Regions from separate parts of the Homo sapiens genome. Here region 1 is linked to region 2. Evidence: fine-mapped expression QTL. A gene starts in region 2. The other region holds a variant in brackets. All regions are shown on one strand. Distances are between the middles of the regions. Region 1 has its middle 6.3 kb from the start of CCDC124. Region 2 holds the start of COMP (cartilage oligomeric matrix protein).

The links. PIP is the estimated chance that this variant, and not a neighbour inherited with it, causes the effect.
Region 1: its variant is fine-mapped to the expression of COMP in lymphoblastoid cells (GTEx, PIP 0.95).

Annotation. Positions count from the first base shown.
Region 1 is chr19:17,925,263-17,928,168 of GRCh38, forward strand. No RefSeq gene overlaps it. Among named protein-coding and RNA genes, the nearest start is that of CCDC124, 6.3 kb to the right of the region's middle. The variant G/T (reference allele first, on the strand shown) is at 1,135.
Region 2 is chr19:18,789,960-18,792,841 of GRCh38, forward strand. COMP (cartilage oligomeric matrix protein) reads right to left here and starts at 1,346. Exons shown (of 19, transcript NM_000095.3): 1 at 1,232-1,346; 2 at 891-976; 3 at 603-654; 4 at 1-155. The coding sequence starts at 1,310. RefSeq lists enhancers at 1-505, 506-1,086, 1,087-1,665.

The DNA.
Region 1 (2,906 bases), 860 kb before region 2:
ACCCGCCTCGGCCTCCCAAAGTGCTGGGATTACAGGCGTGAGCCACCATGCCCGGCCTACCCTGGACATTTTTATAAATGGAATCAGACACTCTATGGGCTTTTGTGCCTGGCTTCTTTCACTCAGCCTCGTGTTTTCAGGGTTCATCCGTGCTGTGGGATGGATCAGTGCTTCATTCCTTTTTATGGCTGCATAGTATTCCATTTCGTGGATTGACCACAGTCTGTTGATCCATGCATCCTTTAAGGGAACAGCTGAATTGTTTCCACCTTTTGGCGATAGTGAACAATACTGCTATAAACGTGTGTGTCTTTTAGTCCTTTTTGAATAGTTAACTGGAGTGGATACTCCTTTTCTCTTTTTTTTTTTTGAGATGGGGTCTCACTCTGTCACCCAGGCTGGAGTGCAGTGGTGTGATCTCAGCTCACTGCAACTTCCACCTCCCAGGTTCAAGCAGTTCTCCTGCCTCAGACTCCCGAGTAGCTGGGACTGCAGGTATGCACCACCACACCTGGCTGAGTTTTGTATTTTTAGTAGAGACAGAGTTTCACTATATTGGTCAGGCTGGTCTCGAACTCTTGACCTCAGGTGATATACCTGCTTCGGCCTCCCAAAGTGCCAGGATTATAGGCGTGGGCCACCATGCCCAGCCATAAAGTGGACACTCCTATTCTGGACATAGAATGACAATGATTTTTCTGCACATAGAATGACAATGATTTTTCCACACATAGAATAACAGTGATTTTCCTTTTCTTTCTCTCTCTTTTTTTTAAATTGGAGACAGGGTCTCACTTTTGTCACCTAGGCTGGAGTGGTGTGACTGTATCTCACTGCAGTCACTCCTTTGGCCAGGGGATGGGGAGGTTTGGCCATGTCTGTGGTTTGGACAATGCTCTTATTTTCATCTGTGGTAAGACTCAATTACGGAAGGGTTTTGATTTTTGTCTGGTTTCATCCTGGACAGAGTGGCCCTGTTTGATGTGGTCATTCTGTGAAATCGTATATGTTCAACCAAAGAACTCCTCGGCTTCACTGTGACTACCAGGTCAACTCCCAGTTGACCAGAGCCTGGGGCCAATTTTTTCTTCTTTACTTTACATTCACCTTCTCGCCTTTGCATATGCTGTTCCT[G/T]CTGCTCAGAATGCCTTTCCCTCCCTGTCTTCACTCAGCTCTTTCCTTCTCAATTTTCAGAGTGCTCTTAAATGCCACCTCCTCTGAGAAGCCCTCTGTGATCACCCAGGCTGTGGGCCTCTATAACCCATTTCAGCACCAGACACATCTTTTGGTCACAGTAAGGATTTTTTTTTTTTTTTTGAGCGAGGGTCTCACTCTGTTGCTCAAGCTGGAGTGCATGCAGGCAGTGCAATGGTGGCTCACTGCAGTCTCCAACTCCTGGGCTCAAGTAATCCTCTTGAGTAGCTGGGAAGACGAGCTTGCCACCACGCCAGCTGATTTTTTTTTTATTTTTGTAGAGACAGGGGTCTCTCTATCTTGTCCAGGCAGGTCTCAAAACTCCTGGCCTCAAGTGATCTTCCCACTTTGGTCTCCCAAAGTGCTAGGATTACAGGCGTGAGCCACTGTGGCTGGCCTGTCATCTTTCAAGTTTCCCAAGTGAGGAGAAAAGGGATGGAGAAGGCCAAAAAAAAAAATAAGTTAGAAGAACAGTTCTTCCTATAGGTCTCAATATGTTGCCATGTTCCTATTGAAAGAAAGAAAGAGAAAGAGAGAAAGAAAAGGAAGGAAGGAGAGAGAGAGAGATCAGAAAGAAAAGAAAGGGAAAGGAAGGAAAGATGGAAGACAGGAAGGAAAGAGAAAGAAAGAAAAGAAAGAAAAGAAAAGAAAAGAAAAAGGGAAAGGAAGGAAGAAAAAAGAAAGAAAAAGAACGGAGATAAAGGGGGCTCTAGACAAACATAAAAATTGGATCTTCAAAAGATAATTAATTGGCCAGGTGCGGTGGCTCACGCCTGTAATCCCAGCACTTTGGGAGGCCAAGGCGGGCGGAGCACCTGAGGTCAGAAGTTCGAGACTAGCCTGGCCAACATGGCAAAAACCCGTCTCTACTAAAAATACAAAAATTAGTCAGGCATGGTGGCTCACACCTGTAGTCCCAGCACTTTGGGAGGCCAAGGTGGGAGGATCTCTTGAGCCCAGCAGTTCGAGACCAGCCTGGGCAACAGAGGGAGACCCTATCACAATTTTTTAAAAAACATTTCAAGTAGCCAGGTATGGTGGTACACACCTGTAGTCCCAGCTACTCGGGAGGCTGAGGCAGGAGGATCGTTTGAGCCTGGGAGGTCGAGGCTGCAGTGAGCTATGACTGCACTACTGCACTCCAGCCTGAGCAACAGAGTGAGACCCTGTCTCAAATAAATAAATAAATAAATAAATAACACAACAGATGATCGCCTCATGAGAATTTTGTCTTTCCGTTGTAAGTCTCCTCTCCAGTGGAAAAGTCTCACAGTGGCCACTCAAATTCTAAATTGTCCCCAGTGTGAGGTACCATTGGAGAGAGACATGTTTGGTTTTGGTTTTGTTTTTTTGAGACAGGATCTGGCTCTGTCACCTAGGTTGGAGTGCCGTATTGTGATCATGGTTCACTGCAACCTCTGCCTCCCGGGCTCAAGCGATTCTCCTGCCTCAGCCTCCCGAGTAGCTGGGACTACAGAAGCACAACACTGCGCACAGCTTCCTTCTAAGATTTTGAAATGGTGAAAAGTTGCCCAAAGGACAGTGGTCCAAGGAGATCTTTGGAATACTTTGGCCATCAACACTGACTCAAGGGTGACTTACTGAGTCTAGGCCCGTCCTCTCTTTATCGACGTTTCCCCCGATGGACCCACAGTGCAATCCCAGCACTTTGGGAGGTCGAGGCAGGAGGATCACTTGAGCCCAGGATTCGA
Region 2 (2,882 bases):
GTGCGAGCCGTTGCCCGTGAAGCCCGCGGGGCAGGGGCCGCAGCGCGCGCCGCTCTCCGTCTGGATGCAGGCCACGCCGGGGAAGCAGAAGCCGGGCGCGCAGTGGAGCAGGGGCCGCACGCTGGGTAGGCCGGTGCGTACTGACTGCTGCATCCCTGCGGGGGGGAGGGGGGAGAAGCGGCGGGGCTGATCGGTGGCTCGCCCGGGGGCAGAGCCTATCATGGCCACGCCCCGGGGCTGGAGGCTTCCCCTTCCCCCCCACCCCCCGCCCCGGGGCGGCCCGAAATCCTGCGCTGTCCGCGATCCCGCCCCAGAGGCTGCGCGCTCTGACCGCGGGGTCTCCCCGGTCTCTTCTCTGAGTCTCTGTCCCGCTTTTCTGCCCCGTGGCGTCTCTCACTTCCCCAAAACTCTCTCACCGCTTCTGTCTCTTTTTGTCTCTGTTTCTACACACCCCATCCCATTCCCGTTCGTCCGTCCACCTCTCCGTCAGCCTCCATCTCCTTCCGTCTCTTTTCCTCCCCAGCTTTCCCTGGCTCTCTGTCTCTGTCTCTGTGTCTCTGTCTCCCGTCTCTTCTCTCTCCCGACCGCCCCGCCGCGCTCACCGCACGCGTCACACTCCATCACCGTGTTTTTCAGGAACGTGATCTCCCTGACCTGCAGGGGTGGGATGGAATCAGCGGGGTCCCAACCTCTCCTCATCCCTCGGGTCTCCCCTCTCTCTACCCCGGGGTCCCTTTCTACAGCCTCTTTTCGCCAAGGACTCCCTACCCGCCGACCCCCTTCCCTCCCCATCTCCTCTCCACCTTCTCGGGTACTTCCTCTCTCCTCGCTGGGAACTGAGACCCCCTTCCGTTCCCTGGCACTCCCTGCCCCGCACCCGGGCCCCGCACCTGCTGCCGCAGCAGCTCCCGCACGTCCTGCAGCGCCGCGTTGGTTTCCTGCAGTTCCCGAAGCATCTGCGGGCCCAGGTCTGAGCCTGCGGCGGCAGGGGACCTGGTGAGGCGTCATGGGGCCGGGGAATCCCACCACCAACTCCCACCGTTGCAGCGAACCCGGACCTCCGAGGCCCCACTGCGCTCCTCTAGTCTCGGTCCCGCCACCTGCTTTCTGCGCCCGGCACGTCCCCTACGAACAGTCCGTGAGCCCCAAACAGCCTGGATCCCGGGCCTCTCACGGGTCCTACAGTCCGTTGTGGGGCCGTGGGCACGGCGCGGGTGCTAACGCGGCTTACCCAACGGGCTCTGGCCCTGTCCGGACGCGCCGAGGGCAGCCAGGGTGAGCAGAAGAACGCAGGCGGTGTCGGGGACCATGGCGGTGGCGGGGAGCTGGGTGGCTGCTCGCTTTCTACCGCCCACGAGGCCCGCGGGGCCTATTTATCCCCAAGGCACGGCCGGCCCCAGGGACGGCCCACCACAGCCCTGCCCAACGTCCAGCCTCAAGGTAAACAGATGGCGCTGGCCCCTGCGTTCAAGTCCCCGCCCGGAATGCCCCGCGAAGTCGCCCGCGGCTGAATCCGACATGGTGGGGAAACTGAGTCCCGGGGTCTGTGGAGAGAGCTGGTGGGGCAGGGAGTCAGGGGGTACTGCCCCCACTTTCATTCACTGTGTGTGTGCGTCTGTGTGTGTGTGTGTGTGTGTGTGTGACGGGGTGTGGCTGTATCGCATCCTCTTGCTTCAGTCTCCCATGTAGCTGGGACTACAAGCCCGCACCACCAAGTCCAGCTAATTTATTTTTATTTTTATTTTTATTTTTAGAGACCGGGTCTGGCTATGTCCTGCAGGCTAGTAGTCTCAAACTCCCGGCCTCAAGCGATACTCCCCACATAACTGGGATTACAGGATCCAGCCATAGCATTCAGCTCATTGATTGATTGATTGATTGAGTGCTTGCTGTATGCCAAACCTGAGTTCCAGTTCCAAACAAGGCAGGCTCCATGGCCACGCTCTCAGCTCACACTTCGGGAAACAGAGTCACCAGCGTCTGAAAAAATAGGTCCACCCACTATGGATCAGACTGACTGGCCCTCCACTCCTCCTGAAGTGCTTCAAAACTGGGTAAGTTGCTGGGTGCGGTGGCTCACACCTGTAATCCCAGCACTTTGGGAAGCCAAGGCGGGCAGATCACCTGAGGTCAGGAGTTTGAGACCAGCCTGGCTAACATGGTGAAACCCCATCTCTACTAAAAGTACAAAAATTACCCAGGCGTAATTCCTCCCTTGCACAATGGAGGTAATAAGTTAATAATTATTAATTAATGATTAATAGTAATGATGATTATGATGATGAATGGAAAATAGGGGAGGGGCAGTTGAGACCTGGGACTCTCAATTTTCCTGCCTCTGTCCAAGGAGGCCGCTTCTGGCCCCAACGCTGGAGGGCTGCAAATGACTCCCCCCAACCCAACTCATTGCTGGTGTTCCCTCCCCTCCCCATGGTCCCTCGGCTGGTGGAGGAGGGGACAGCGTTCAGGATCTTGCCCCAACCCCTGTCCAAGGGGACAGGCCCACTTGGTTTTCCAATCTGCGCAATGGGGTGTGAGGCCCCCATCTGGAGGGGAGCAAGTTAAAGGGCTCTAGCAAGGGGAGGTCCGGGGCTTCTGTTTGTCCAGGCTGTGCCATACCTTCCAAACTGTGCTCCAGCTGCTGTGGGAACAGCCTGTAATAAAAATAAAAGTTACCGCTAACTGGCCAGCCACACTCTGGAGTTACAAAACCCCTTAACCTCCTGCAATCAGTTAACACTCTCCACTCCCACCTTCCAGTACTCACAGCGTCTATTCTATAGACAGAGAAACTGAGGCCCAGAGAGAAAAAGTGACTGGCCTAAGGCCACTGCCCGAGGGCAGGGGTGAATCTAGACTCAGAGCCAGATATGTTTTCTGGG